Homo sapiens: one gene and its partners. The protein of the gene in region 3 purifies or fractionates together with the protein of the main gene of each other region. This does not show direct contact. Each region holds a gene or a part of one and is shown on either strand. Other genes may lie near its edges.

Region 1 (4,342 bases), on a different chromosome or scaffold from region 3:
ACCATCGCTGCAACAATATGATTCTGCGGAGCACCTCTTGGTGAAGCAGATCTTGTAAGTGCTGTCGTTCCTGCTCCTTTAGAAAGACCTACCAAAAGGAAGAAAGATGAGGAATGCAGCTTAAGAAGAAATGAGAAATTTATTTCATGAATCATCCTTTCTGTGATAAGCTTTTAGAGAAGAACAAACACAGTGGCAGGCATGTAAATGAAGTACTGATAAATATTCCTACAGATTTATCCAAAGTAGTCATTCTCAAATTGAAATGGAGATAGTAGAATACGGAAGGTGAGCTGGGTGTGGTGCTACATGCCTATACTCCTAACTACTGAGAAGGCTGAAACAGGAAGTTTGCTGAAGCCCAGGAGTTCCAGTTCTACGGCAAAATAGAGAGACCTGGTCTCCAAAAAAAAAAAAGACAAAAAAAGGAAGGTAAGGAAGGGAGGAAGGGAGGGAAAAATGACAAGGTGAGCAAGAATATCAAAATTCCAGTGCCAGAGATTATGATACATTAGTCCATTGGGGAAACCACTGCTATGAGTAAATGTATTACTGGTAATAAGTCATATTTTTCAAGCGTGTTGGGATGGGGAAAAAAGTTGAAAACCATAGATCTTGAAGCTTGAATCATATAATGAATAAACCAATGATAACAGTCTTTTTGAAATCCAGCGTGCATTAAAAGCTTCTCACTGTCCAAAGTTATTAATAAGTTTATTTTATTTACTCCTTCATTCCACTAATGTTTAGGGTTTGTGAGGCTGCAAAGGTGAAGGAGACATATCCCTTTAGAAACAGGAATTATACCTCTCATTTGAGAGCAGGTAGATATTATATACCCGAAGAGGAAGATGGTAAACTAATAAGGGCCAGAGACAAAAGATCCCACCTGAGTAACACAGAGAGTTGAAAATAATAATAAAGGCATGCACAGGAGACAACGGGACAATTAATCTCCATAAAAAAGATATTAAGTAATGTGAAGCCACAATATGAAGGTTCTCAAAAAAGAGAAAGATGTTTGGATTTAATGAGGAGGTTATCAGGAGGTTATTATCAAGCAGGAGGCAGACATAAAGAACTAAGTATATTAAGATAATAATTTTAATATTATGAGTAGAATAAATTAAATGGAATGACAAATATACTAGAATCAGATAAGTAAGCTGTTCACTGTATAAGCAATGTAGATGAGAAGAGATAAGGAATAAAAATAAAATGGAAGCAGTAGTAATGGAGAAACAGAAAGCGATGTAAGAATCTCTTTGTAAAAGGAAAAAAAATCCCTAAAACTTTGTGAAAGGATTAAAGTGAACGGTATGCCAAAGACAATTATGGTTTCTAGACTGAGAAACTGGAAAAAGGGTGACAGAGAAAGAAAGTATTTGATAAATTTAAGAACAGATGAATCTGGATATGGTCACCTTGGGCAAGCTGGCTTGGAGATTACAGTAGAGTATCTATGGAGAGATGATTTTTAGGCAGTTAAAATTATAGTCAGAACTAGAGCACTGGCCAGAGCTCTGTGATTAATATTGACTACATAATTAAATAAAAACCTGGGCCTAACCAATTGTCTTCTGATATCTGATTCACTATCTTTTTAATAAACAATCTCATAGGCAAAAATTATTATTTTTTAAATAAATGCACTCAATTTTGACCAGAGCTATACAGATTATATTTACCATGGTTTTTCCAACTTGATAATTATCTGGATTAAGATTTATTTTCCTGAAGAAATCCTGAATGTTAAATTTGGATGGAATAATATTTCGGGGAAGAAGTACATGGAAGTGGCTCACAAAATCCTGAAAAATAATTTAAAAATATTGTAAAATCAGAAAACAGTGTATGTAAACAAGACCTTAAACTAATTATCATTCTATTAATCTTTTCTCTTTCTTTTAAACAGGGTGAAACCAAGACGTGCATGTTAATTTAAGATATGATAAAAGGTTAATTCGGAAAACATAGGAGGTGGAGAAAGATATTGGGTTCTACATATCATGACATCAAAAGGGAATGAGAGAAAAAAAAGGCAGAGGCTAATTATCCCTTTTGAGAAAGCTTTATAAAAGACCAAAGAAAAGGGTATTTAACAAGACCCTAAAATTTCTATCAGGAAAAAAAAAGCAAACGTGGCAGGATGGGGACAGGGTATCACTGAGAATGAGGCTTTCCGTCCCAGTAACAGCAAAGACTTGCTCAGTTGCTGAACAGCTTCAATATAGTTTCCATACCCATAGCAGCAATTGCTGATACGAGTAGCTGTGAGCCTTGCTGGCAGCTTACTATGAAAGAAAATCCTGCTGAGAAAACTTTAGGGAAAACCAAATAGAATCTTTTCACTAGATAATTCTCATTGAACTATTTCAGTTACTGGAGAGGTCAGTGCAAAGAATTGTTATATCAGGAGTAAATTTAGTATTAGCAAACATTCCGAGCAAATGAGAATAGCCAAGTACTGGATTCTATTACAATAAGCTTAATGAGATTGCTGCCATTCAATCAAAGTAAATACTGTCTATCCCTTTTCAATTCCGTATACAAAACGTGAAATGGAAAGGAAGAATTAAGGAAAATAAGTAAGCCCCAAAGAAATAATAAGCAAGATATGTGGGAATCATTTACTTGATGTGTCTAAATATGTAAATATCACTATAAAAACAGAACCTGGAAAGAATATTTGGAGCTGTATCCTGATTGGCGAATTCGAACTGTTTCCAGCATCCCGGTGTATCGAAGCTGTCTAAGTACCAAGACATCACTGAACCTTAAGGGCAGCTAAAGCAAATGGAAAAAAGATTAACCCAGAACAGTAGATCTCCAAATTAATTATCTGTTTATAAGCATGACTAACTGTTGAGTATCTAGAGATTGACTGGAGGTTGTCTGGTTAACATATACAGTAACTAAGTATATTAAGGCAAGCTCACCTCTCAGCTGGTAGCTTCAGAAAAGTTCTGACTGCCCAACCCTAGGGAAAAGAGAGAAACCAAGCTTCCAGGCTTCTCTGGTTGTGAAGAGAGAGGACCTTAAAGGCTCAAAAAGAATGTAGTCACCCACAGAGGCCACATAGTCCAATCACTACAAAATCTGTAACAAGATAACCTACAACTGGGTGTAGTGGCTCACGCCTATAATCCTAGCACTTTGGGAGGCCAAGGTGGGCTGATCACCTGAGGTCAGGAGTTCAAGACCAGCCTGGCCAACATGGCAAATCCTTGTCTCTACTAAAAATACAAAAATTAGCCGGGCGTGGTGGTGCACACCTGTAGTCCCAGCTACTCAGGAGGCTGAGGCAGGAGAACTGCTTGAAACCAGGAGGCGGAGATTACAGTGAGCTGAGATCATGCCACTGCACTCCAGCCTAGGTGACACAGTGAGACTCTGCCTCAAAACAAAAACAAAAACAAAAAAGAAAATTCTTTTCTGACAGGACTTCAAGAGGTATTTGCTTCTCAAATTCTGGGTGATGCTAAATCAAATCCAAATAAACACCTTACAGGCAGGGAAGTGTGGAAAAATCCATTTAAAGTGTTTATAACATACTATTTTCCTTATAAATATTATAGTTAGTGCTTCCCCTCCACTTATTCTGCTTAAAAGTATTTAAAGCTCAGTTTGAAGTAAGCTGAGATATGTGCTCTCATTTATAGGACATTTTTACCTTTTCAGCATTAGAGCGAATGCATTTTACAAAATATGGTTCTGCTTGACCAAGTGTTTCCATTAGCTTGCTTAATGATGCCTGCAACAGAAAGCAATATAATTATCATACTCTTCCATTCCAAACTATTAACAAATAATTTATAACTATAATCAACATGCTGGCAAAACATTCAAAAAGTAGAGGTACACATAGAAAGAGGTTTTTGAAAAGCACATTGTGTATATTCTCATACTGGTTAAATTATGGATAATTAAGGATAAAGATGGTAGTTTAATATTAAAGCAGATAGCCTGGAAATAGTAAATATTGCAGATGTTTTCAGAACAATCAAATATAGAATTTTTTTCACTTTTCTTCACATTTCATCAAACAATTTTATTCAAACTCATGTATCCTACAACTTTTAAAATGATTCAGGAGGGTATCCAGTAAGGTAGTAAGCCCTTGCTTTACTTTAAATGTCTACAAAGTATGTAATGATATCCCTTTTTTTATTCCTGATAATGGTAATTTGCACATTCTCTCTTTCTTCCTGATTAGTGGCTAGAAATTTATCAACTTTTTGATTTGCTCAGCCCAGGCATGGTGGCTCACGCCTATAATCCCAGCATTTTGGAGGGCCAAGGAGGGCAGGATCACCTGAGGTCAGAAGTTTGAGACCAGCCT
Region 2 (4,342 bases), on a different chromosome or scaffold from region 3:
GCCACCCCCTGGGCCTCCACCTCCTGGCCTGTTTCCTCCTGAACAGCTTGAGGATCCCCATCCTCCACCAAGTACCTTCATCTGTGGCACGGACTCCCCCGTGAGCATGGCCTCGTCTACGATGCAGCGGCCTCGCAGCAGAAGCACGTCACATGGCACCAGGTTCTCCTGTGGGGAGCGGCCTGCAGGGCAGAGGCAGGAGGGTTGGCCAGAGGCCCTGAGGCTGGGGCTCCCACTGGGACTGAGCGGAACCCGGCCTCACCGATGGAGACGATGTCCCCTGGTACGATCTCATCACTGGCAATGGGCCTCCACTTGCGGCTTCGGTAGACCTGGGCGGGGCATGGGTGTCAGCACAGAAGCCGCACCTGTGCTGCACCCCCAACCTGGGTCTCCCTGGCAGCCACACCTGGATCATGTGGGGCTTGTTGCCCATCTTCCGGATCTCCGACATGTTCCGCATCTGCTGCTGCACCAGCGAGGCCTCGAACGCCACCAGCATGGATAGCGTAAAGACGCTGTAGTACCAGTACTCATCCAGGCACCAGAGCCCCACACAGAACACCTGTGGGATACCAGCCTGTCTGTCCTTGCCCTACCCGCCCTGTTCCCATGAGCCCCTTCCACCCACCGGATCTGATATGTGAGGGTGGGGAGAGGCTTCCAGGTTTAGAAGTGGTGGGCAGGCTTGATCCGGTTAGGAAAGCCCCAAGGGAGGAAATGGGGAGATGGGCCAGAGCTGCTGCTTTACCTGAAATACAAAGAAGGGGGCTGTGGCTCTCTCCTTGAAAAGCTCCGAGAAGTCAGGCACCACCATCTCGGCCCTGCAAGAGACCAGGCCCCATCCTGTTCCCAGGGCAAGGCCTCTGGGGTATGGAGTCTCCACCCTGACCCCTCCAACCTGAGCATGGCAGGCCGCTCTCAAGAAACCAAGAGCCATATGTGGGCGTCGGGAGCCCTGGCGAGCTTCCAGATAGGAGGATCCATTTGGCAGTGGCTCTCCCTCATCCTGGCTGAGCCTGGGGTAGACATGCTGCCCGCCCACAGCCCTCGGCTCTGCATAAAACAGATGAAGCTCCTTAATCTGCAATATGCTCTTCCTGGCAGCCTGGGGCTGGTGTCAGACGAGAGCCCGTCATCTGGTCGAGTGACACAGCAAGTAGAGAAGGAACCTCTGATTGAAAGATGGAGGCCCTGAAGCTACAGACAGCAGAAGACACTGAGACCCAGCCCCACCAAAGCTGAGATTTTCTATGATTCCTGAATTAAAGCCCCAGAATGGGTCGAGTAGGGTGGTTCACGCCTGTAATCCCAAGCACTTTGGGAGGCCGAGGCAGGAGGAGTGCTTGAGCCCAGGAGTCAGAGACTAGCCTGGGCAACACAGCAAGACCTTCTATTTACAAAAAATTTAAAAATTAGCTGGGGGTGGTGGTGTGTGCCTGTGGTCCCAGCTATTTGGGAGGCTGAGGCAGGATGAATGCTTGAGCCCAGGAGTTCAAGGCTACAGTGAGCCATGATCACACCACTGCACTCCAGCCTGGGTAACAGAGTAAGACCCTGTCTCCAAAAAAAAAAAAAAAAAAAAAAAAGGCTCGAGAATGCAAGGACTTGGGCCTAAGGGTGTGTTCTGCAGTACTCTGTGCCATAGTCCAATCTGATCAGGGCACCAGTCATGTCAACGAGGGTCATTCTCGCTCTGCCCTTTAACTGCATGGACGTCTTATGTATGGGATGTGAGAAGAGGAAACCAAAGAGCAACCCCACTGCTATCAAACAATAAGCCCTTCCCTTGTATCTTGCTGGGTACCTTTGCGTTGAGTAAGAACAGCATGAAAGGGAACGTAGTTGCCACAGGCCATTAATGTGACTGGCCAACCTTGGGGTAGGGGAAGTTGCTAAATGTTTCTTATAAATCCTTGTATTAGATTGATAGTTGTAGTCAACATATTTGTAATCTCTGAACAGTGATTAAGTCAGGAAAGAGCTCCCTAGGTGTTCTGTGGGTTTCTGGGTTGAGGACCATCGTAACAAGGCCATGATGGGGTTTGGAGCCCAGTTCTCCGGCTCCCAGCCACGTGTCAGCATTTGCAGTTTTGGTGAAGATGAAGGGAGAGGGTGTGCACCGCACATTGGCCATTGTACTCAGTACAAAAGGGCAGACATGGTCACGGTCTTCCATCACCATTCTGAAGCGCTGAGATGCGTAGACTCGAAACAGTGAGGACTGAAATGTTTAGGTTGGGTGCAGTGACTCATGCCTGTAATCCCAGCACTTTGGGATGTTGATTTAGGAGGACTGCTTGAGGCCAGGAGTTTGAGACAAGCCTGGGCAACACGGCGAGACCCCATCTCTACACAAATAAACATTTTAAAAGAATTTAAAATAAAGCTGTTGCTGAGGAGGGGCCACAGGCTAGACTCCTGTGAAGAACCTTACACTCAAGGTCTCACACCCCAGGGCACGGGCTTCCAGCTGCAGACCCTCTGGGGTTCCTGCCAGCAGGCAAGTTCAGGGGAGACTGGACTTAGAGCATGTTGCTCAAGCGGCATCACAGTCACCTGGGACATTTGGCTAAAAGGGCAGATTTGGCCGGGTGCAGTGGCTCACGCCTGTAATCCCAGCACTTTGGGAGGCCAACATGGGAGGATCACCTGAGGTCAGGAGTTCAAGACCAGCCTGGCCAACATGGTGAAACCCCCATCTCTACTAAAAATACAAAAATTAGCCAGGCGTGGTGGGGGGAGCCTGTATTCCCAGCTGCTTGGCAGGTTGAGGCAGGAGAATCACTTGAACCGGGGAGGCGGAGGTTGGGGTGAGCTGAGATCGCGTCACTGCACTCCAGCCTGGGTGACAGAGCGAGACTCAGTCTCAAAAATAAAAAATAAAATAAAAATAAAATAATAGTAAATAAATAAATAAAAGGGCAGATGCCTCTGTCCCGCTTCCTAGGCACCCTGAATCAGGAGGGGAGCAGGACAGAAAGGCAAAGGTGCTACAGGCAAATCAAGGACTCACTTGTTGCTCCCAAATTTCTTCTCAGCTGCTCGGATCTCTGAGTCTTCCTGGAAGCCTCTGTTGCTCTGATAGTATGAGAAGGCGTTTCCCACAGGAAAGGCCACGGGGAGAAACTGCTTCTTCTCCAGGGCATCGTAGGAATACTTGATCTTCTGGAATTCGAAGGACAGCACCTCAAGCCCGTCTTCGCCCTGCGGTAGAAGGTGTGTTTGCCACAGAGGCCCCTGACCTTGGGGTGTCAGCGCCTGGGAATCCTACTCAAGCCCCTCCTCCAGGAGCCCAGCAGGCAGTCCCTACCTCATTGCGGTGCAGGGCCACGAGCTCCGTGGAGCCATTGTTGGGGGTTGGCACCACCTTCACAAAGGTCGCTTTGCTGGGGTCGTACTCCTGACAGAGACAAAGAAAGCATTGTGGCTTAGCTCTTCTCAACCTACAGTTCCAAGACCCCCCCGGGAGGTTTTGGGTGCAGCAGCTCTATGGGTATATTCTGAAATGCCACTGGGCTCTGGTGCTGCCTCTGTCACTCCCTCGTCTGTCATCAGGACAAACGAGACCATCTTGCTGTGCCTCTGGTGCCACACTTAAAGCTGGGAGCACAAGGCTGGGCACGGTGACTCACACCCATAATCCCAGCACTTTGGGAGGCCAAGGTGGGCGGATCACTTGAGATCAGGAGTTTGAGATCAGCCTCGCCAATGTGGCGAAACCCTGTCTCAACTAAAAATACACAAATGAGCCGGACACGGTGGTGCACACCTGTAATACCAGCTACTTAGGAGGCTGAGGCAGGAGAATCCCTTGAACTGGGAGGCGGAGGTTGCAGTGAACTGAGATTGCAACACTGCACTCCAGCCTGGGTGGCAGAGTGAGATCCTATCTCAATTAAAAAAAAAAAAACAAAAAACCAGCCAGGCACAGTGGCTCGCACCTGTAATCCCAGCACTTTGGGAGGCCGAGGTGGGCAGATCACGACGTCAGGAGATTGAGACCATCCTGGCTAACACGGTGAAACCCCATCTCTACTAAAAACACAAAAAATTAGCTGGGCGTGGTGGCAGGCATCTGTAGTCCCAGCTACTTGGGAGGCTGAGGCAGGAGAATGGCGTGCACCCAGGAGGCAGAGCTTGCAGTGAGCCGAGATTGCACCACTGCACTCCAGCCTGGGCGACAGAGCAGGACTCTGTCTCAAAATAAAAAGGCTGGGTGCAGTGGCTCACACCTGTAATCCCAGCACTTTGGGAGGCTGAGGCAGGGGGGATCACGAGGTCAGGAGTTTGAGACCAGCCTGGCCAATATGGTGAAACCCCGTCTCTACTAAAAATATAA
Region 3 (4,089 bases):
CTCCCCTGCTTACAAAATAATAAAAGAAGGCTTTACTGAGGACCTCCTGGGTGCCCTGCTGTGCAGCTTGCCCTGGTCCTTGCCCTCTGCAGCTTGTTATTGCACTTAGAAGGCAAGGCATGGACATGCCTGAAGGGGTGTGGGAGCTACTGACGTGCCCAGGCCACAGGTACCTCAGAGAAAGGGGCAGGAGCAGGTGTGATTCATCCCTGTGACCCCAGGGCCCAGCCCAGAGCCAGGCACGTGGTGGGGGCTTTTGTTTTTTTTGTTTTTTTTGTTTTTTTTTTGAGGCGGAGTCTTGCTCTATTGCCCAGGCTGAAGTGCAGTTGCATGATCTCAACTCACTGCAACCTCTGCCTTCTGGGTTCAAGCGATTCTCCTGCCTCAGCCTCCCGAGTAGCTGGGATGACAGGCGCCCGCCACCATGCCTGGCTAATTTTTGTATTTTTAGTAGAGACGGGTTTCACCATGTTGGCCAGGCTGGTCTTGAACTCCTGACCTCAGGTGATCCGCCCACCTTGGCCTCCCGAAGTGCTGGGATTACAGGTGTGAGCCACCACACCGGCCTGGGGCTTTGTGAACACTCTGTGAATATGCCGACCTGGGGGTCCAGGAGGCAAGAGAAGGCCCCCAGTATGGGTCAGTCCAGGTTATTTCCAATCCATTCACATTTCTGATGCAGTGTCCTCAGAAGCAGAATGGGATTTCCACAGGCAGGTAAGGGGAGGGTGCAAAGAGAGGGCATTCCAGGCAGAGGGCGTGGCAGGAGTAAAGGCCCAGTGGTTGCAGGTGGGGGAGCACAAATGGCCTGGGGTGGTGGGACTCCAAGATGGATGTGTATTGGGAGGGGAGACAATAGCAGGAGAGGCAGCATAAATCTAAAACCTGTCATCCCTACAGCCCTAGTTGGTGGCTCCTTGGCCATCAGCAAACAGGGTAAACTCAGGTAACCAGGGAGGCAGCGTGACTCTGGGCAGGGAGAGGTGTCCTGATCAGCCAAGCAGCTCCTCAAATATTTGTGCAGCACAGACCATGCACAAGGTGGGGCCATGGGAGAACCCGCAGAACCAAGGCTCCTGCCCAGGTGAAGCTGTTGCACTTCAAAGCCAGAAAGCCCTTAGGTGCCAGTCCTCTCCCTGTACCGATGAGGAAAAGGAGGTGATTCTTTCCACAACCCCGCCCATCATGAGTCAGGACTTAGAAATAAACAAACACCAGCTCGGAGCAACAAAAGCCCTGGGGCTTTGTAACCAGAGAGACCTCAGTTCACATTTGAACCCTGGCCCTCCAACCTCCCTGCTGTGTGACCTTGGCCTGGTTACTCAACCTCTCTTAGTTTCAGCTGTCTCATCTGTTATTGCCCCATAACAGGGCCCCTGTCTCAGAGCTGTCCTGAGGATTAAAGAGATCATGCAGTGCCAGGCACCTAACTGGGGATGGATTCTTTATAGCTGGTATTTTAATCTACCTCTCTGAGTGTGTTTCGTCATTGATCAAATGTGGGCCAAGCCAGGGCATATGCAAAGCTCAGTACATGTGTGTTTCTTCCTTCTTCTATTTTCAGAAGGGTAAAGAGGACTGTCCTGGTCACACCATGGGCCAGTGGCACATAGTAGGGCTAAATAAATGTGTCACTTTATCCATCAGAGTTAAAGAGAATTGCCCAGGTCACCCACTGAGTCAAGAATTTGACGCTGGTGCTCTTTTCTCTGTGTTACAGGTGGGCACTGTATGCAGTTTGGTGCCTGTGAGGTAGGCAGCACACAGTAGGTGCTTAATGAATGCATGTGCATGGAGAGAATGAATAACCCTATTAAGCAAGTGACTGTCAGCATGGCTGGCCAGGAAGCTGGGAGCAGACAACGTTAACATGGAGGCAGAGGTCTGAGGGACAGTGGGAGCCTTGAACCCTCCTCATGTCTCTATCGCCAACTGCCAGCTTCAAGGGAGCCCCACAGGGCACTGGCCCCAGGCCCTCCAGTTCTTTACCTTCCCCTCCAGGGTGGGCTTTGGATTCAGCAGCAGTGTAGCCATTCTCTCCCTGCCCAAGAGAACAGAGTGAGGGGTGGGCTTAGGTGAGGTGAGCTCCAGCCTCAGGGAGGCAGACAACAGGGTTTTCAGAGGGGTCACTGAGAGAGTCTTAGGTAGAACCACGGGTCCGTCACACCCCAGCATCTCACGCCCCAGATGCATCATGCCCGCTTCATATGTCCACACCTTTGCCTGCACTGTGCCCTCTGCCTGGAAAGCCTTTTTCTCTGCTGTCCACCTGATAAATATTCATCCTTCAAACCGGCTTGGGCAGCGACTCCTGGGTGAGGCTTTCCCTGATACCCTCCTCCCCAGTAAAACTGGCCGCTCTTCCCTCCTGTCCACCTGGCTCCTCTGTTTCCATACCAGCACTTGCCACCTGGACTGTATTGCTGGGTCATTGGTAGGGTCCCCTACACCCTGGGAGTGAGCCCCGGGGCAGGACGGGGGCTGATTTTCCTCCGTGTCTCCCATGTATGCCCACTCTCTACTGCCCACTCCTCATCCCAAGGTTTGCTCTCCCAAGATCAGGAGCCTGGTCAGGGCGGCTCTTACCTGGGGACAGCTCTTACTTGGAGACAACTCTTACCTGGGGACAGCTCTCACCTGGGGACAGCTCTCACTTGGGGACAGCTCTTACTTGGAGACAACTCTCACCTGGGGACAGCTCTCACCTGGGGGAAGACCTTGTTCATGTCTTCGGTTTCCTGCTGCCCGACTGGGGCTGTGTGCAGAGAGCTCAGCACGGGTTCCCTGCATTGTCACCAAGGCCAACCTGGAGGAGGGACAAGCAGGAGGCCTTGCCCGGGCCACACCCTCCCTGTGGGCAGGCCCCTGTCAGCTGCCTTCCAAGCAGAGGCAAAGGCAGGAGGGCCCCTCTCCGGCCAGGCTATTCCCTCATCTGCCATCTGACAGCAACATTGCGAGGCTGGAATCCTCATCCCTATTCCACAGATGAAGAGCCAGAGGTTCAGAGAGGGAGAAACTGCCCCAAGTCTCACAGTGCATGGGAGGAGTGAAACCCAGAAACTTTTCAGAAAGTGCATTTTCCTCCACATCAGAGATGGAACCGGAGGAGCTCAGGTTCCAGGGGTATGAAGATGCAGGCAGAAACTCCCAGAATTGACGTTTCGGTGGCTAGAAAGTAGGGGTCATTTTCTCATTGATGTTCTTCTGTTCAACTACATAGGTGACCTAGATTGAAAGAATATGCATTTTCCACTAAAATTATAAAGCAAATATAATTTTAAATTGTTTCATTTAGAAACGTGGCAATGTGAATTTTTACTGCCCCTGAGGTGGTGCTGAGGTAGGGAAGAGGCGGGGGGCTGGTTGCTTGCGTGAACAACCCCTTCTATGTCCCCAGTGAGTGGGTTTCCCTAGCAGCCTGTCCCACTGCTGAGTAAACCAAGGCCCTGGAATCTTGAGGGACAGGTCCAAGGACCCGGACCAAGGGAGGAGAGGTGTCTACCTCCAGAAATGAGCTCAGGAGTTCTTGCACCTGCCTCTGATGCCCATAGATTTTCCAACCTGCAATCAGCCTTTTCTTTTGCATTGGGAAATAAAATGATGAATCCACGTGGGTGCAAGTAGGAGGCACAGACACAGGGGCAGCCCTTGGGAGGCAGCAAGTAACATTGTGAAGAGCTGAGCCCTAGGCCGGGAGAACAGGACTCTCATTAGGGCCCTACCACTGGCTCTGACGGGTGACTCACTCCCCTTCCCTGCGCCTCAGTTCCTTCATCCAGAAAATAAAGATATAAGCTAGATGAAGGGGGTGTTTTAGTTTAAGGTTCCCCAGAATCAGACTCTAAGACAAGATTTGAGGGCAAGTAGAGTTAATTGGGAGTGATCCCAGGAAATGCTGGTCGGGGGGTGAGGGAAATGAGACATGGAAGAGAAGGATCCGATAACAGTCGTGTTATGAAGCAGGTTTCCGCTGTGGGCAAGTGGAATTTAGCCCTGCTGGGGCACTCGGGGAAGCTAGGGGAGAAGATGCCCCTCAGAGTTATCCCACTCAAGGTGAGGGGAACTGGGGTAATAATCTGCCAGCTCCTG
Region 4 (4,054 bases), about 22 Mb from region 3:
GCACAGTTCAATGGTGCCCCTTATCCCCAGCTCACCCACAAAAGGGATACCAGAAGAATGGGCAGGAGGGAATCACCAGGGCTCTACTCCCATTTCTATCACTTAGACACGCTGACTTTCCTTTTCTGGGTTTCAGTTGCCTCCTCTGTAAAATGGGGTAAGAATCATGAGGAATTCACTGTACTGTGAGTTAGGTGGTCTAGGGCTGACATTAATTACTAAGAGACTGTTGAGAGAACCCTTCTTCCTCTCTGGGTCCCTTTGCTTCATCTGGTCTCACCTCTTGCCTCCAAGTGGTCCACCACACAGTTGTCTGAGTGGTCTTTGTAAAATACTAAGCTCAGCCTGACCACCCTCTGCTTAAAACTCTTTGTGGGCTTTTTTTTTTGAGAATGAGTTTCGATCTTGTCGCCCAGACTGGAGTGCAGTGGCACAATCTTGGCTTACTGCAACCTCCGCCTCCCAGGTTCAAGCAATTCTCCTGCCTCAGCCTGAAGAGTAGCTGGGATTACAGGCATCTGCCACCATGCCCAGCTAATTTTTGTATTTTTAGTAGAGATGGAGTTTCACCATGTTGGCCAGGCTAGTCTCGAATTCTTGACGTCAGGTGATCTGTCCACCTCAGTCTCTCAAAGTGCTGGGATTACAGGCGTCAGCCACAGCGCCTGGTCCTGCTTAAAACCTTTTGAAGGCTTCCTAGTGCCCTTGGGGTCAAGGCCCCAAGGATTTGACATGGCCTCTGAGGTCTTGTGTGGCTTCCCACAACCCTCACCACACAGCTCATGCTGTTTCTCGTTCCTCCAGCACTCTGTACTGCTTCACGTCTCTCCCTAAGCTGCTCCCTCCAATTGGATTGCCCTTCCCAAAGCCTAATCCTTCTGGTAAGCTCTTCATCATCTTTCAAAACCCAGGTTCCTCCACAAAGCCTTTCTCAAACTCCCTAGAGTTTGACATCCTTTTATTTTTTTAAAAAAACTTTAAGTTCTAGGGTACATGTGTACAACATGCAGGTTTGTTACATATGTATACATGTGCCACATTGGTGTGCTGCACCCATTAACTCGTCATTTACATTAGGTATTTCTCTTAATGTTATCCCTCCCCCACCCCACCCCACCACAGGTCCTGGTGTATGATGTTCCCCACCTTGTGTCCAAGTGTTCTCATTGTTCAATTCCAACCTATGAGTGTTTTTTTTTTTTTGAGACAGAGTCTCACTCTGCCGCCCAGGCTGGAGTGCAGTGGCGCTCGGCTCACTGCAACCTCCACCTCCTGGGTTCAAGTGATTCTCCTGCCTCAGAACTATAGGCACCTGCCACCACGCCCGGCTAATTTTTCTGTATTTTTTGTAGAGACGGGGTTTCGCCATGTTGCCCAGGCTGGTCTCAAACTGCTGACCTCACGTGATCTGCCTGCCTTGGCCTCCCAAAGTGCTAGGATACAGGCAATGAGCCACCGTGCCTGGCCCATTTGGCATCCTTTAACTGTTCCCTGCATCTCCTGCTACTAGTCCACATTCCCCAATGCTGGTCATCTATTTATTTCCCATCTGTATACCTCACTAGGCTGAGAGCCCTTGAGCGGGAGGATCTAATCCATCCCTGTGTCCTCAGAGCATGCCGCAAGGCCTGGCACAGAGAGGCCCTAGTGAGCATGTGAATGAAATGCTAGGACCGGTGAGCTTTCTTTTTTTTTTTGAGACAGAGTCTCGCTCTTTCGCCTAGGCCAGACTGCAGTGGCGCTATCTCTATCTCGGCTCACTGCAAGCTCCGCCTCCTAGGTTCATGCCATTCTCCTGCTTCAGCCTCCTGAGTAGCTGGGACTACAGGCGCCCGCCACTGCGCCCAGCTAATTTTTTTGTATTTTTAGAAGAGACGGGGTTTCACCGTGTTAGCCAGGATGGCCTCGATCTCCTGACCTCGTGATCCGCCCGCCTTGGCCTCCCAAAGTGCTGGGATTACAGGCGTGAGCCACTGCACCTGGCCCAGTGAGCTTTCTTATAATGTCCTGTGAGATCTCCCAGGAATCCCAAGGGCCTGGACCAGAGGACTGCAAGTCACAGCCTGTAAGCAGCCCCCTTCTCAACCCAATGCTCTTGCCTTGCTGACTCACTCATTTAAAAAAAAAATAGTTGGCTGGGCACAGTGGCTCACACTTGTAATTCCAGCACTTTGGGGAGGCCGAGGGTGTGCAGATCACCTGAGGTCAGGAGTTCGAGACCAGCCTGGCCAACATGGTGAAACCCCGTCTCTACTAAAAATACAAAAAAAAATTAGCGGGGCATGGTGACACAGGCCTGTAATCCCAGCTACTCGGGAAGCTGAGGCAGGAGAATCGCTTGAACCCGGAAGGTGGAGGTTGCAGTGAGCCAAGATCGCAGCACTGCACTCCAACCTGGGCAACAAGAGCGAAACCCCGTCTCAAAAAACAAAAAAGAAAAGTTATTGTGCGACTCATAACATGAATGAACCTCACAAACAATATGCTGAATAAAAGAAGTTGGGGGCCGGGCACGGTGGCTCACGCCTGTAATCTCAGCACTTTGAGAGGCTGAGGCGGATGGATCATGAGGTCAGGAGATTGAGACCATGGTGAAACCCTGTCTCTACTAAAAATACAAAAAATTAGCCAGGTGCGGTGGCGGGCATCTGTAGTCCCAGCTACTCAGGAGGCTGACGCAGGAGAATGGTGTGAACCTGGGAGGCGGAGCTTGCAGTGAGCCGAGATCACACCACTGCACTCCAGCCTGGGCGACAGAGCGAGACTCCATCTCAAAAACAAACAAACAAAAAAAAGAAGTTGGGGCCGGGTGCAACAGCTCACGCCTATAATCCCAGTTCCACTTTGGGAGGCTGAGGCAGGCAGATCACGAGGTTGGGAGTTCGTGACCAGCCTGGCCAGCATGGTGAAACCCCATCTCTACTAAAAATACAAAAAATTAGTTGGGCATGGTGGCGCACGCCTGTAATCCCAGCTACTCGGGAGGCTGAGGCAGGAGAACTGCTTGAACCTGGGAGGCGGAAATTGCACTGAGCCAAGATCGCGCCACTGCACTCCAGCCTGGGTGACAGAGTGACACTCTGTAGCAAAAAAAAAAAAAAAGAAGAAGTTGGACACGATTTCATTTATATTAAGTTCTACAACAGGCAAAACTAACCTCTCGTGAAAGAAAACAGAAAGGTAGTTTGTCTTGGGGGAAGGATCACTGGGAAGGGCCATGAGGACATTTTCTGAAGGGCTGGAAATGTTCTATATCTTGAATGAGGGGTGGGTTACATGAGTATATATACCTTTATCAAAACTGAAAGAATTGTACCCTTTAAGATTTGTAGGCCAAGTGCAGTGGCTCATGCCTGTGATCCCAGCACTCTGGGAGGTCGAGGTGGGTGGATCGCTCGAGCCCATAAGCTCTAGACCAGCCTGGGCAACATGGCAAAACCTTGTCTCTACAAAAAAATACAAAAATTAGCTGGATGTGGTGGCATGCGCCTGTAATCCCAGCGACTTGGGAGCTGAGGTGGGAGGATCACCTGAGCCCAGGAGGTTGTGGCTGTAATGAGCTGTGATTGCACCACTGCACTCCAGCCTGGGAGACAGAGTGGGACCTTGTCTCAAAAAAAAAAAAGGATTGCACATTTCACTGTATGGAAATTTTACCTTAAAAAGAAAGGCCTAGGCCAAGTGTAGTGGCTCACTCCTGTAACCCCAGCACTTTGGGAGGCCAGGACGAGTGAATCACCTGAGGTCAGGAGTTTGAGACCAGCCTCGCTAACATGGTGAAACCCCATCTCTACTAAAAACGTAAAAATTAGCCGGGTGTGGTGGTGCACACCTGTAATCCCAGCTACTTGGGAGGCCCGAGGCAGGAGAATCGCTTGAATCCAGGAGGTGGAGATTGCAATGAGCCAAGATTGTGCCACTGCACTCCAGCCTGGGCAACAGAGCGTGACTCCATCTCAAAAAAAAAAAAAAAAAAAAAAAAAAGGCCAGAGGAGACAACTGAGTGCTAGACAGGCAAGGGCCCTGACCTTTGTGAACTTTTAGTCCTGAAATG
Region 5 (4,342 bases), on a different chromosome or scaffold from region 3:
CCATATTCTGTTGGTCAAAATAGTCACAGAGCCAGGTGTTATTCCAGGGGAGGGGACTTAGATGCCACCTCTCAGTGAGAAAAGTATCAAAGAATTTGTGGCCCGTCCGGGCACAGTGGCTCACACCTGTAATCCCAGCACTTCAGGAGGCCAAGTCTGGCAGATCACTTGAGGCCAGGAGTTTGAGACCAGCCTGGTTAACATGGCAAAACCCCTTCTCTACTTAAAAAATACAAAAATTAGCTGGGCATGGTGGCACACATCTGTAATCCCAGCTTCTCAGGAGGCTGAGGCACGAAAATCACTTGAACCCGAGAGGTGGAGGCTACAATAAGCCAAGATCACGCCACTGTACTCCCGCCTGGGCGACAGACAGAGCGAGACCCTGTCTTAAAAAAAGAAAGAAAAAACAAATGGAATTTGTGGGCATTTTTAGGCTACCAGAGATCACAATCTTTTTTCACATTTTAAAAGGCTCATTCTTGCTGCTGGGTAAAGAGTGACTGGGAAGGGGCCAGAGAGGAGCAGTTAGATTGTCATCCTTTAGGCTTCCCCAGCATCCTGTGGGTGTCTTTATCAATGCGTAGCACACAGTTTTGCAGTTATTTGTTTTGCATGTCTGTTTTCTCCACTGGACTGAACTTCTGAAGATAAAGACTCTCTCTCATCTCCATACCCCCAAAACCTGGCATCTCATTACTAGATGCTTAATAAATTTGTTTTTTTTTTTTTTTTTCAGATGGAGTTTCATTGTTGTTGCCCAGGCTGGAGTGCAGTGGTGCGATCTTGGCTCACCACAACCTCCGCCTACTGGGTTCAAGCAATTCTCCTGCCTCAGCCTCCCAAGTAGCTGGGATTACAGGCATGTGCCACCACACCACACATATTGGTCAGGCTGGTCTTGAACTCCTGACCTCAGGTGATCCACCCGCCTCGGCCTCCCAAAGTGCTGGGATTACAGGCGTGAGCCACTGCACCCAGCCAATAAATGTTTTATGACTCAAAGAATAATTATAAACAGAGGGAGACCAAAGTATTACAAGTCATTAAAGAATATACTTTTAGATATTTTCATACTAATTATATCTAATTGTGATATAGGCACAAGATCTAGCTTTTAAAGACTTGCATTTTTCAGATAAAAACCCTGAGTATTGCTTTAGTATTGTGATCCTATCTGAAGACAGGTTTGTTGAATCTTAATTCTTGTTTATAGTATTTTATTACCATTTTTTTTACTAAGAACACTGTCAAAACTTTTTAGTATTTCTTTAGACCATCTCATTCATAAATCAACACTTACTGTTGATGCCTGTTCTGTGTGAAACCCTCAGTGGAGGAAATAGCAAAGAACTAGAAGTCATGGTCTCATTTGAAGGACTGTACTTCTAATTCAATAAAAAATGTAGAAAACATCATTTTTAGTATGACCAACATGGAGAAACCCTGACTCTACTAAAAATACAAAATTAGCCGGGCGTGGTGGTGCATGTCTGTAATTCCAGCTACTCGGGAGGCTGAGGCGGGAGAAGCACTTGAACCCGGGAGGCAGAGATTGTCAGCCAAGATGGCGCCATTGCACTCCAGCCTGGGCAACAAGAGTGAAACTGTCTCCAAAAAAAAAAAAAAAATCAAATCTTCTTTATAACTGTAAGAAAATAGTTATCTACAACTTTTTGCTTGATTTTAACCTAATATATTCTTTTTTTTGTTTTTGTTTTTGTTTTTTTGAGACGGAGTTTCACACTTGTTGCCCAGGCAGGAGTGCAGTGATGCAGTCTCGGCTCTCAGTCTCTCAGGGTAGGTAGCAGGCTTTTTTTTTTTTTTTTTTTTGAGATGGAGTCTCACTCTGTCACCCAGGCTGGAGTTCGGTGGCATGATCACGGCTCACTGCAACCTCCGCCTCCTGGGTTCAAGCGATTCTCCTGCCTCAGCCTCCTGAGTAGCTGGGATTACAGGTGCGTGCCACCGTGTCTGGCTAATTTTTGTAACTTAATATATTCTTAACCATTACATTCTATTTTAGGTATCCTGAAGCAGTTTATGTTGTTTATACCGGCGATGTTAATGTCAACGGTCAACAGATACTAGAAGGTGCTTTCAGAAGATTTAACATCAGATTAATTCACCCAGTGCAGTTTGTTTTTTTAAGGAAACGCTATCTTGTGGAAGATTCACTGTATCCTCACTTCACACTGCTGGGCCAAAGTCTAGGATCCATTTTTCTTGGCTGGGAAGCTCTAATGCAGTGTGTTCCTGATGTTTACATTGATTCAATGGGATACGCTTTTACGCTTCCTCTGTTTAAGTATATAGGGGGTTGCCAAGTTGGAAGCTATGTTCATTATCCTACTATCAGCACCGACATGCTCTCTGTAGTGAAGAATCAAAATATTGGATTTAATAATGCAGCCTTCATTACCAGGAATCCTTTTCTCAGCAAAGTAAAGCTCATCTACTACTATTTATTTGCTTTTATTTATGGACTTGTTGGTTCTTGCAGTGATGTAGTCATGGTCAATTCTTCTTGGACACTAAACCATATTCTCTCACTATGGAAAGTTGGGAATTGCACTAACATTGTTTATCCACCTTGTGATGTGCAGACATTTCTGGACATTCCCTTACATGAGAAAAAGATGACCCCAGGACATTTGCTGGTTTCTGTTGGCCAGTTTAGGCCGGAAAAGAATCATCCATTGCAGATCAGAGCCTTTGCTAAATTGCTGAATAAGAAGATGGTTGAGTCACCTCCTTCGCTTAAACTTGTCCTCATTGGAGGTTGTCGTAACAAAGATGATGAACTTAGGGTAAACCAACTGAGAAGGCTGTCTGAGGATTTAGGAGTTCAAGAATATGTGGAATTTAAAATAAACATTCCATTTGATGAATTAAAGAATTATTTGTCTGAAGCAACAATTGGTCTGCATACCATGTGGAACGAGCATTTTGGGATTGGTGAGTTTGGCCTTTAAACAACTTGTTTGGTGCCATGAGATACACATTTTAAGTTCTTTTGATAAAATGATAATACTCTGGAAATCTGCATCATGCCCTAATTCTCTTGCCCTCATCCACCAAATGTGCTTTCCTCACTTGAGACCTTGTAAGATAGTAGTTAATAATAGCAGCTAGTATTTATTGACCAATTCCTGTGTGTGGGCCACTGTGTTGAGATTTTTACATGTATTATCTAATTTAAGCCTTTCTAAACCCGTTTGATAGGTGTTATTGTTATTCCCATTTTATAAATAAAGAAACTCAGGCACAGGAAGGTTTAGAAATTGCTCGAGTTCAGTTACACAGTAAGTGGTAGAGCCCGGATTCTAACCCAGATAGCCCCTGCTCTTAACAGCAACATTTTCTCTCTCCATCTAACCCCACTACATACTTACTGGTACAGATTCCTGGGCCCTACCCTAATCCTACAGAATGGCCAAATGAGAATCTCTGGACAAGGCCCAGGTAGATGTATTTTGATAATGCTGCTTAAGTGATTCTGTTATGCATCAAAAGTTGAGAACCACTGTTTGCATAGGGGCTTCTCACAGTAACTCTTTTAGTCTTTTATTGATTCTACCCTCACCATTGGAATGGCTCTCCTCTTTGTGCCAGATTGCATCATAAGTCTTCAACTTAAATCTCCTTGCACTTTAGCCTTTCTTGTTTATTCTGGCACAAACTGCTATCTCTATTCTGACCTGTTAAGCACACATTTTGCTATAAAATCAAGTACTGCTTTGTGTTTAATTTGGGTCCACATATATTTCTCAAGCGCTTTGTGCCTCACACTGTTAGTTGTTAGGGGAAATGAGGATAACATAAAAGTGACATTTCCTAAACTAAGACTTCAATTTCTCTTATACTCTTTTTACTCCTAGTTAGTAGTGTAGTGCTAGGCCCAGACATTAAGCAAGAACTTGTTGACCCAACCTGTTGCATGGGATCTGACCTCCTGTGCTTCCTTCCATAGAAACTTACTAAGCATTCACTCTGCTGAGCGCTTGGGTGGATGCTAGGGATGTGGTGGAGACAGGAGCTGCTTGGCCTGTCAGAGGCTTCCCACCCTCTGGTGGTACCAACAGGCTACACAGGCAAGTGCCGTGCCGTGCTGTGCCGTGTGCCAGGTGCTATGCTAAGGAAGTGCAGGGTGATGTGAAAGCGCCAAAGAGAAACCTAACACAGACTTGTGCGGGCAGGGAACAGTTGCCCAAGGAAATGATGTGACACTTGAGCAGGACCCGAACAATAGAGGTTAGCCAGGAGAGAGGGGAGAGTCTCCAGCAGAGGGAACAGCACTGTGACAGGAGTGACAACAGATGCATCAATAGGAACATTCAGC
Region 6 (4,342 bases), on a different chromosome or scaffold from region 3:
AGCACTTTGGGAGGCCAAGGGTGGCGGATCACCTGAGGTCAGGAGTTTGAGACCATCCTGGCTAACGCGGTGAAACCCTGTCTCTACTAAAAATACAAAAAATTAGCCGGGCGAGGTGGCGGGCGCCTGTAGTCCCAGCTACTCCGGAGGCTGAGGCAGGAGAATGGCGTGAACCCCAGGGGGCGGAGCCTGCAGTGAGCCGAGATTGCGCCACTGCACTCCAGCCTGGGCGACAGCGAGACTCCGTCTCAAAAAAAAAAAAAAAAATTAGCCGGGCGTGGTGGCATGTGCCTGTAGTCCCAGCTACTTGGGAGGCTGAGGCAGGAGAATCGCTTGAACCCGGGAGGTGGAGGTTGCAGTGAGCCAAAATCGCACCACTGCACTCCAGCCTGGGCGACAGGGTGAGACTCTGTCTGATAGATAGATAGATAGATAGATAGATAGATAGATAGATAGATAGATAGACTGAAACTGTGAGCCACGTACATTTGAAAAGTTAGTGTTATTTGAACGTACAATTGACAAGATCTGATGCCCTCAGCTGGATGTCTTCACTCAGACTGTGTATGTTCCTTTAATTTATTAATCAAAGAGGCTCTCTCTCTTTCCCTCTCCCTGCAGGTTGCCATGGCTGCTGTTGACAGTTTCTACCTCTTGTACAGGGAAATCGCCAGGTCTTGCAATTGCTATATGGAAGCTCTAGCTTTGGTTGGAGCCTGGTATACGGCCAGAAAAAGCATCACTGTCATCTGTGACTTTTACAGCCTGATCAGGCTGCATTTTATCCCCCGCCTGGGGAGCAGAGCAGACTTGATCAAGCAGTATGGAAGATGGGCCGTTGTCAGCGGTAACCTACTTTATAATCAAAATAATCTTTTCTGTGAAGTCGGATGCATTATTCAAGGAGCTATTGAATTTAATGTGGTGTTTTTATGGGAACATGCTGATAAAAAAATAAAACTTATGGCTCCTGCCGTGATTATGTTCACATTTCATTTTCTTACTGCTCTCATCTTAGGAAGAACTGGCCTCATGATTGGTATCCTTCCTATTCTGCTCTCTCCTGTTCCCAGTCCTCCTCCAGACCCACTTCCTACTATGTGCTTTTCCTTTTTGTTCTCTGTTTTAAAATTGTCTTGAAAGTGTTGCCACTTTCAGAAATGCTTCACCTATTTTGAATTTCATTTTAATTTATGAAGATTTCCCAGAAAAGCACCTCCTGCCACTCATTCAAGCCAGATAGTAGTTTGAAAACAAATTCCTACTGTGTCTCCTAACCAATATGGTGAATGTAAAATAACTCCCTGTCCGTGTGTCAGGATGTCTGGGAGAGTGTATAGCATGCGCCCTTCACATTCCTCATTCAGCAACAGTGTCCTTGACTTGTAGATACTAGAACCGACTTGATTTCTAGTGTGAATTTTTCTCTGACTAAACCTGACAGGGGGTACTTTGGGTCCATTTTAAGGGTCACACCGTGAAATACACATGCTCACTTTTCCTGACTTGCATCCTAGGTGCAACAGATGGGATTGGAAAAGCCTACGCTGAAGAGTTAGCAAGCCGAGGTCTCAATATAATCCTGATTAGTCGGAACGAGGAGAAGTTGCAGGTTGTTGCTAAAGACATAGCCGACACGTACAAAGTGGAAACTGATATTATAGTTGCGGACTTCAGCAGCGGTCGTGAGATCTACCTTCCAATTCGAGAAGCCCTGAAGGACAAAGACGTTGGCATCTTGGTAAATAACGTGGGTGTGTTTTATCCCTACCCGCAGTATTTCACTCAGCTGTCCGAGGACAAGCTCTGGGACATCATAAATGTGAACATTGCCGCCGCTAGTTTGATGGTCCATGTTGTGTTACCGGGAATGGTGGAGAGAAAGAAAGGTGCCATCGTCACGATCTCTTCTGGCTCCTGCTGCAAACCCACTCCTCAGCTGGCTGCATTTTCTGCTTCTAAGGTCAGATGTTACTTACTGGAAGATGAAATCCTAATGCCACAGAACATTTATTAACAGTTGTTTGGTCTGATTTGTTGAACTCTTTGTCAGCAACTCACATATGCTTATCCTGTATTTTTTCCTGAATTGATAATAAGCAAGTCTTTTTTTCTCCTGAATTTTCAAGTTCACCCAGAATTAAAAGTCTTTTCCTCCCCTCTGTCTCAACAGGCTTATTTAGACCACTTCAGCAGAGCCTTGCAATATGAATATGCCTCTAAAGGAATCTTTGTACAGAGTCTAATCCCTTTCTATGTAGCCACCAGCATGACAGCACCCAGCAACTTTCTGCACAGGTGCTCGTGGTTGGTGCCTTCGCCAAAAGTCTATGCACATCATGCTGTTTCTACTCTTGGGATTTCCAAAAGGACCACAGGATATTGGTCCCATTCTATTCAGGTAGGAGTGTGCTTCAGGTCTCATAATTAGATTAATGCATCATGAACCTATCTCAGTGATACAGAGAAATCTGATTAAAGCCTAAGATGAGAATTGTAAATTCTGACTCTTAAGCCTGACACTTAATAATTTTGGTTAAGACACTAAATTTTCTTTCTTTTTTTTTTTGAGATGGAGTCTGGCTCTGTCACCCAGGCTGGAGTGCAGTGGTGCGATCTCAGCTCACTGCAAGCTCCGCCTCCCGGGTTCATGCCATTCTCCTGCCTCAGCTTCCCGAGTAGCTGGGACTACAGGCACCTGCCACCACGCCTGGCTAATTTTTGTATTTTTAGTAGAGACGGGGTTTCACCGTGTTAGCCAGGATGGTCTTGATCTCCGGCCTCATGATCTGCCTGCCTCAGCCTCCCAAAGTGCTGAGATTACAGGCGTGAGCCACCGTGCCTGACCAAAGACACTAAATTTTCTTTTGTGAAATTATTACCTTAAGAATTTTCAAAAGTTCAATCTATGTGGCACCTTAAAGTGAAATATACTACTTTGGCTGGGGTGTGGTGGCTCACATCTGTAATCCCAGCACTTTGGGAAGCTGAGGTGGGTGGATCACCTAAGGTCAGGAGTTCGAGACCAACCTGGCCAATATGGTGAAACCCTGTCTGTACTAAAAATACAAAAATTAGCTAGGCTTAGTGGTGTGTGCCTGTAGTCCCAGCTACTTGGGAGGCTGAGGCAGGAGAATCGCTTGAACCCTGGAGGCGGAGGTTGCAGTGAGCCAAGATCACGCTACTGCACTCCAGCCTAGGCGACAGAGCAAGGCTCTGTTTCCAAAAAAAAAAAAAGAAATATGCTGCTGTAAGTGGATGTTAGGACTATAAAAATACTAAGTATTTACATGGGAATTTCAAAGTAAAAGATTCTAGTACTGCTTGAGGGTTACCTCTCAGTGAAAAATATAATCCAAAAAAACCACAAAACCACAAGATAGGGCTATATTTCATGCAACCATTTTATCAAATAATATCTCTGTATAGTCTTAGACTAATTTTTTCAAGAAGCATAGAATTTTTATTTTAAGCTTATTGTTTAGGCATGACAAAGGATTGGTACCTTTTAGTACTGTAGAAAGTAACTTTCTTAGATATTTGAAATTGTGATCGTAAGTATTAATTTGAGAATGCATAATTATCTATTACAATATATTTCAGTTCCTTTATCTGGTGTAGTAAAGAGATGTGCCCTAGTTTAGAATTTTTTTTTTTTTGAGATGGAATTCCGCTCTTGTTGCCCAGGCTGGAGTGTAATGGTGCGATCTTGGCTCACTGCAACCTCCACCTCTCGGGTTCAAGTGATGCTCCTGCCTCAGCCTCCGGAGTAGCTGGGACTACAGGTGCCTGCCACCACGCCCAGCAAATTTTTGTGTTTTTAGTAGAGATGGAGTTTCACCATGTTGGTCAGGCTGGTCTCGAACTCCTGATCTCAGGTGATCCACCCGCCTTGGCCTCCCAAAGTGCTGGGATTTACAAGCGTGAGCTGGCAGGGCGTGGTGGCTCAAGCCTGTAATCCCAGCACTTTGGGAGGCCAAGGCGGGCGGATCACGAGGTCAGGAGATCGAGACCATCCTGGCTAACACCGTGAAACCCCGTCTCTATTAAAAATACAAAAAAATTAGCTAGGCGTGGTGGTGGGCGCCTGTAGTCCCAGCTACTCAGGAGGCTGAGGCAGGAGAATGGCGTGAACCCGGGAGGCAGAGCTTGCAGTGAGCCGAGATCACACCACTGCACTCCAGCCTGGACGACAGAGCAAGACTCCGTCTCACAAAAAAAAAAAAAAAAAATACCAGTGTGAGTCACTGTACCTGGTCCGAATTTTTTTTTTTTTTTAATATTCGGAGTTTTCTTAATTATCAAACAGATATTTTTGGGACTGTTTGCATGAAGAGTATTA
Region 7 (3,970 bases), on a different chromosome or scaffold from region 3:
CCATCTCTTCCATTTGGCGGCCTTCCTCTTCACCTGTTTCTCTACTCAGCTGTGGCAGAAAGGGAAACAAGGTTGTTGAGTGCCCTTCATGTGCCAGATACTGCACATACCCACAGAGGAGAAACTGAGGCTATGAGAGGCTAAGGGACTTGCCCAAGGTCCCGAGGGTGCAAACTCCTGGCACGGAGTCCTAAATCCTCAGCTTTTCTGAAGCCAGGGTCCTTGTTCTTCTTTGCCCAGTTAGACATCTATTGCTCCTTAACATATCCTAGATGTGCTCTTGTCCCCACCCCACTAGTCCCATTGCTTTGGGACATTTTGCTTCATTCACTATCCACGATCAATTCTAGTGACCCGCCTGTCTCTGTGACATCACTCAAAACACAAGAGCCTCAAAGTCACTTGCCCCCTTCTGCCTAGCAAGTCTTTTTTTTTGGACAGGGTCTTGTTCTGTCGTCTTGGCTGGAGTGCACTGGCGCGACCTAGGCTCACTGCAGCCCCCGCCTCCCAGGTTCAAGTGATCCTCCCACCTCAGCCTCTCAAATAGCTGGGACTACAGGTGTGCACCACCACACTCAGCTAGTTTGTTTGTTTGGTAGAGACAACGCCTCACTATATTACTCAGGCTGGTCTCAAACTCCTTGGCTCAAGCAATCCTCCCCGCTCAGCTTCCCAAAGTGCTAGGATTACAGGCGTGAGCCACCGAGCCTGGCCTAAGTCTTTCTTTACAACAGATGACCTCACCACTTCACTCTGGTTTTCAGCAAGATCCTTTATTTATCTTCTGTTCCCCAGACATGTCACATGAATGCAGGTAGCTAGGTACCTGCGCGGGCTGTTGGTTTTGTAAACGCAGAGCAGAGCAGTCACGATGTGTAGAAATCATGCACCTCAGTGATTCTTTAACAAGATAATGAGTAAAAAGACTTCAGGTATGTTTGAAATGTCTGCCTTTTCCTGCATTCTCATCACTGACAAATATCTGTGTAGACATTTTACTCAAATGTAGACGTGCTCTTTGCACACTTGCTAGTACCTGCCTGGTGCATTTCAACTGTGTTTTCTTCCAACAGTTGTACCTCTTAGAAGCTGCTGTTTTCCATTTGGATCTAAACACTGGACCTGCACCTGCGACCAGCTGTATATTCCAAACCACTCCTCGGCTTTATAAATCTGACACTGCTCATAATACATTATTCAGAAAAGGCATCTCTAGTGTGGCTGGCCGGCTACGCTTTCACACATCAGCTAACACAGGCTATTTCTAGAGTGAGTGCCTCAAACTGGTCTCCTGGGACCTTTTCCTTCGGGAAGAGATCCACATGTTCTTCACAGGAGACCAGAAAACCAGCACAACGGCCACGGGTCCTCTGGGCATGTAGGTCTTCTCTGTCTCCTCACTAGCACACACTGGCTTGGGTCATTGTCACGCAGTGCACACCTTTGTGCCATGACAAAGACACAGGGCCAACTCTTCCACTATCTCCAAGTCTAGTGTTTGAACATTTATGTACAGACAAATAAATGAAAAAAAAAAAAACATAGGCAACAGAACTCCAAAGCAAAACAGAAACTTTGGTCAGATCTATTATTCCAGTTTTGCCAGAGAAAGGCTTTCCCCAAATGTCGCTGGGTGAGCGCGGTCCTATCCCCCTACAGCTCCTATCAGCCAACCTGGTGGCCTTAACGTTCATCACTGTGGACTCAAAACACCTAAAACTGGGAATTTTCCAGGCCCAGTTTGGCAGTAGGGCTTCTGTAGGCAGTGAGGTAAGCGGATCACACGTTCCGTGGCTGATCTGTGTGAGCCGCAGCTTGGTGCTGGGGGACACCAGCTTCAGCTTTGCAGGAAAGCCATGTTTAAAGAGTAGCCTCCAGTCCTACTGGCCCAATGCTTTTGCCATCAGGGACCTGACAAGGTTTAGAATGAGGTGAGCGATGGTGACAGTATCCCTGGGCCTGGACACTGTGTGCCACCCTGACTGTGTCTGGCAGCCCCTCCACCTGGCTACTGAAGCCAGTCAGGTGTGGGGGCTGCAGACTGTCCCCCTGCCGTCAGGTGGCTGAAGGGTCCCCAGTGTGCCAGCATCAGAGGCCAAGTTCTCTAGCTCTCTGGTTTGCAGTTTTTAGTTTTTTTTTTTTTTTTTTAAGATGACCACAAGAAGTTTTACATTATTATATTCAGACAAATAACCATTTAGTTACTCTATTTCAGAGCACTGAAAAAAACAAGTAGCAACAGAAGACAGACTTACAAGGGCACTAAGTCTCTGGTCACTCAAGGACCAATCAAAGGAATGCGCTGTTAGGCCAGAAAGGAGTCTCTGAAGCAAATGATTGGAAGGAAAAAAAAAAAATCTAAGGAAATACAAGCCGAAAAGTTTCCATTTACAATAACCAAGGGAAAGAGGGACCCGACATGATATAAAATCCCAAATAAGAGCTTTCCGCTGAGGCAGGTTTCTGAGCATGGAAACAACACCGGTAGGGACTGGACCGGACCACAGTCTGCCCAGGCCCCGCCTCGGCCCTTCTCGCCGACTCCAGCATGGGAAATACTCTCATCGTCCCGGAGCAAAGATGAAATCAAGAGCCTGCCGTTCGGCCGCTGCGACGTTTGGATGCCACAAATCCACCATGAAAACCACCCGTGGGCCATCCTCTGCTGAACCTGGGGGGGAAGGAGGGGTGAGAGGACAGGTTCAAACCACCCTGGAGTCAGGACCCAGGATCCAGGCAGGGCTGGACCCTACGTGCTCAGCTTCGGGGCAGGGACCCCATCCTGTCCCTCGGCTCGGATCGGACCACCTCCTCTCTCACTGAGAGCATAAACCTGGCTTCATGGGCTTCTGAGCAGGGTGGACAAAAGGAAATGGGGAGATGGAGGGATCTTTAAGTGGGAATTTTTACGGCAGTGAAACTATTCTGTATGATACTGTCATGGTAGGTCCGTGTCATTATCCATTTGGCGAAACCCACAGAATGGATGGACAACACCAAGAGTGAACCTTAATGTCAACCATGAACTTTAGGTAATAATAACGCATCAATACTGTGTGTGTATATGTGTTATGGGGTGATATGAAGGGGCCTCCTTGGTACTTTCTGCCTGATTTTTCTGGAAACCTAAAACTTCTCTAAAAAAATAAAAGTCTATTCATTGAAAAAAAGGAAGTGGGAAAGGCAGCCACTCACCTTCATGGAACGCAGCATGCAGGAAAGAGTCATCAAAGAGAAGGCAGCGCCCTTCTGCCCAGCACTGGGGCTCTCCCCCCACCACCAGCTCACAGCCATTTGGAGTTTTCAGACCTTGTAGGAAAACCAGAGAAAGGAGAGTGAAGGCAGGCAAGATTCAGGGAAGGCCAGGAGATAGGGGGTGATTTGCCTTACTGAGAGTTTTTGACTTCTAAAGCACCTGACCTGCCTCACACCTCTGGAGCCCGTGCTATGGTCTGAAGGCTTGTGGGCTTGTGTCCCTGCAAATTCCCATGTTGAAACCTGACCCCAAGGTGATGGTGTTAGGAGGTGGGGCCTTTGGAAAGTGATCAGATCATGAAGGTGGGGTCCTAATGGGAGCAGCATCCTTATAAAACAGGCCCAAGGGAGCTTCTTTACCTCCTTTTGCATCTTTTTTTCTTTTCCCTTTTTTTTTTTTTTTTTTTGAAATGGAGTCTCTCTCTGTTGCCCAGGCTGGAATGCAGTGGTGTGATCTCGGCTCACCGCAACCTCCACCTCCCAGGTTCAAATGATACTCCTACCTCAGCCTCCGGAGTAGCTGGGAGGCACTGGAGTAGCTTACAGGCACCCACCACCTCACCCGGCTAATTTTTTTGTTTGTTTTGTTTGAGACAGAGTCTCACTCTGTCGCCCAGGCTGGAGTGCAGTGGCGCGATCCTGGCTCACTGGAACCTCTGCCACCTGGGTTCAAGCGATTCTCCTGCCTCAGCCTCCCGAGTAGCTGGGATTACAG

The links.
Region 1: the proteins of LDLRAD1 (region 3) and MYO9A purify together in Homo sapiens (affinity purification with mass spectrometry; one large-scale study listed by BioGRID and IntAct). This does not show direct contact.
Region 2: the proteins of LDLRAD1 (region 3) and ATP13A1 purify together in Homo sapiens (co-immunoprecipitation; 2 studies listed by BioGRID and IntAct, with this or other methods). This does not show direct contact.
Region 4: the proteins of LDLRAD1 (region 3) and TMEM39B purify together in Homo sapiens (co-immunoprecipitation; 2 studies listed by BioGRID and IntAct, with this or other methods). This does not show direct contact.
Region 5: the proteins of LDLRAD1 (region 3) and ALG11 purify together in Homo sapiens (co-immunoprecipitation; 2 studies listed by BioGRID and IntAct, with this or other methods). This does not show direct contact.
Region 6: the proteins of LDLRAD1 (region 3) and HSDL1 purify together in Homo sapiens (co-immunoprecipitation; 2 studies listed by BioGRID and IntAct, with this or other methods). This does not show direct contact.
Region 7: the proteins of LDLRAD1 (region 3) and ASPHD2 purify together in Homo sapiens (co-immunoprecipitation; 2 studies listed by BioGRID and IntAct, with this or other methods). This does not show direct contact.

The regions. Positions count from the first base shown.
Region 1 is NC_000015.10:71,901,253-71,905,594, forward strand, and holds part of MYO9A (unconventional myosin-IXa), read right to left. Parts: intron 3,755-4,342; coding exon 3,674-3,754; intron 2,788-3,673; coding exon 2,677-2,787; intron 1,812-2,676; coding exon 1,689-1,811; intron 89-1,688; coding exon 1-88. UniProt on the Homo sapiens protein: Myosins are actin-based motor molecules with ATPase activity. Unconventional myosins serve in intracellular movements. Regulates Rho by stimulating it's GTPase activity in neurons.
Region 2 is NC_000019.10:19,656,585-19,660,926, forward strand, and holds part of ATP13A1 (endoplasmic reticulum transmembrane helix translocase), read right to left. Parts: intron 3,404-4,342; coding exon 3,314-3,403; intron 3,208-3,313; coding exon 3,017-3,207; intron 825-3,016; coding exon 752-824; intron 566-751; coding exon 410-565; intron 333-409; coding exon 263-332; intron 183-262; coding exon 76-182; intron 1-75. UniProt on the Homo sapiens protein: Endoplasmic reticulum translocase required to remove mitochondrial transmembrane proteins mistargeted to the endoplasmic reticulum.
Region 3 is NC_000001.11:54,015,387-54,019,475, forward strand, and holds the start of LDLRAD1 (low-density lipoprotein receptor class A domain-containing protein 1), read right to left. Parts: upstream 2,801-4,089; 5' UTR 2,791-2,800; coding exon of another isoform or gene 2,727-2,790; coding exon 2,706-2,726; intron 2,042-2,705; coding exon 1,990-2,041; intron 1-1,989.
Region 4 is NC_000001.11:32,096,382-32,100,435, reverse strand, and holds part of TMEM39B (transmembrane protein 39B), read right to left. Parts: intron 146-4,054; exon of another isoform or gene 1-145. UniProt on the Homo sapiens protein: May protect the cells against DNA damage caused by exposure to the cold-warming stress and facilitates tissue damage repair during the recovery phase.
Region 5 is NC_000013.11:52,021,980-52,026,321, forward strand, and holds part of ALG11 (GDP-Man:Man(3)GlcNAc(2)-PP-Dol alpha-1,2-mannosyltransferase), read left to right. Parts: intron 1-2,026; coding exon 2,027-2,958; intron 2,959-4,342. UniProt on the Homo sapiens protein: GDP-Man:Man(3)GlcNAc(2)-PP-Dol alpha-1,2-mannosyltransferase that operates in the biosynthetic pathway of dolichol-linked oligosaccharides, the glycan precursors employed in protein asparagine (N)-glycosylation.
Region 6 is NC_000016.10:84,127,607-84,131,948, reverse strand, and holds part of HSDL1 (inactive hydroxysteroid dehydrogenase-like protein 1), read left to right. Parts: intron 1-621; 5' UTR 622-627; coding exon 628-847; intron 848-1,517; coding exon 1,518-1,963; intron 1,964-2,173; coding exon 2,174-2,401; intron 2,402-4,342.
Region 7 is NC_000022.11:26,441,798-26,445,767, reverse strand, and holds the end of ASPHD2 (aspartate beta-hydroxylase domain-containing protein 2), read right to left. Parts: intron 3,310-3,970; coding exon 3,196-3,309; intron 2,672-3,195; coding exon 2,562-2,671; 3' UTR 1,087-2,561; coding exon of another isoform or gene 1,074-1,086; 3' UTR 753-1,073; downstream 1-752. UniProt on the Homo sapiens protein: May function as 2-oxoglutarate-dependent dioxygenase.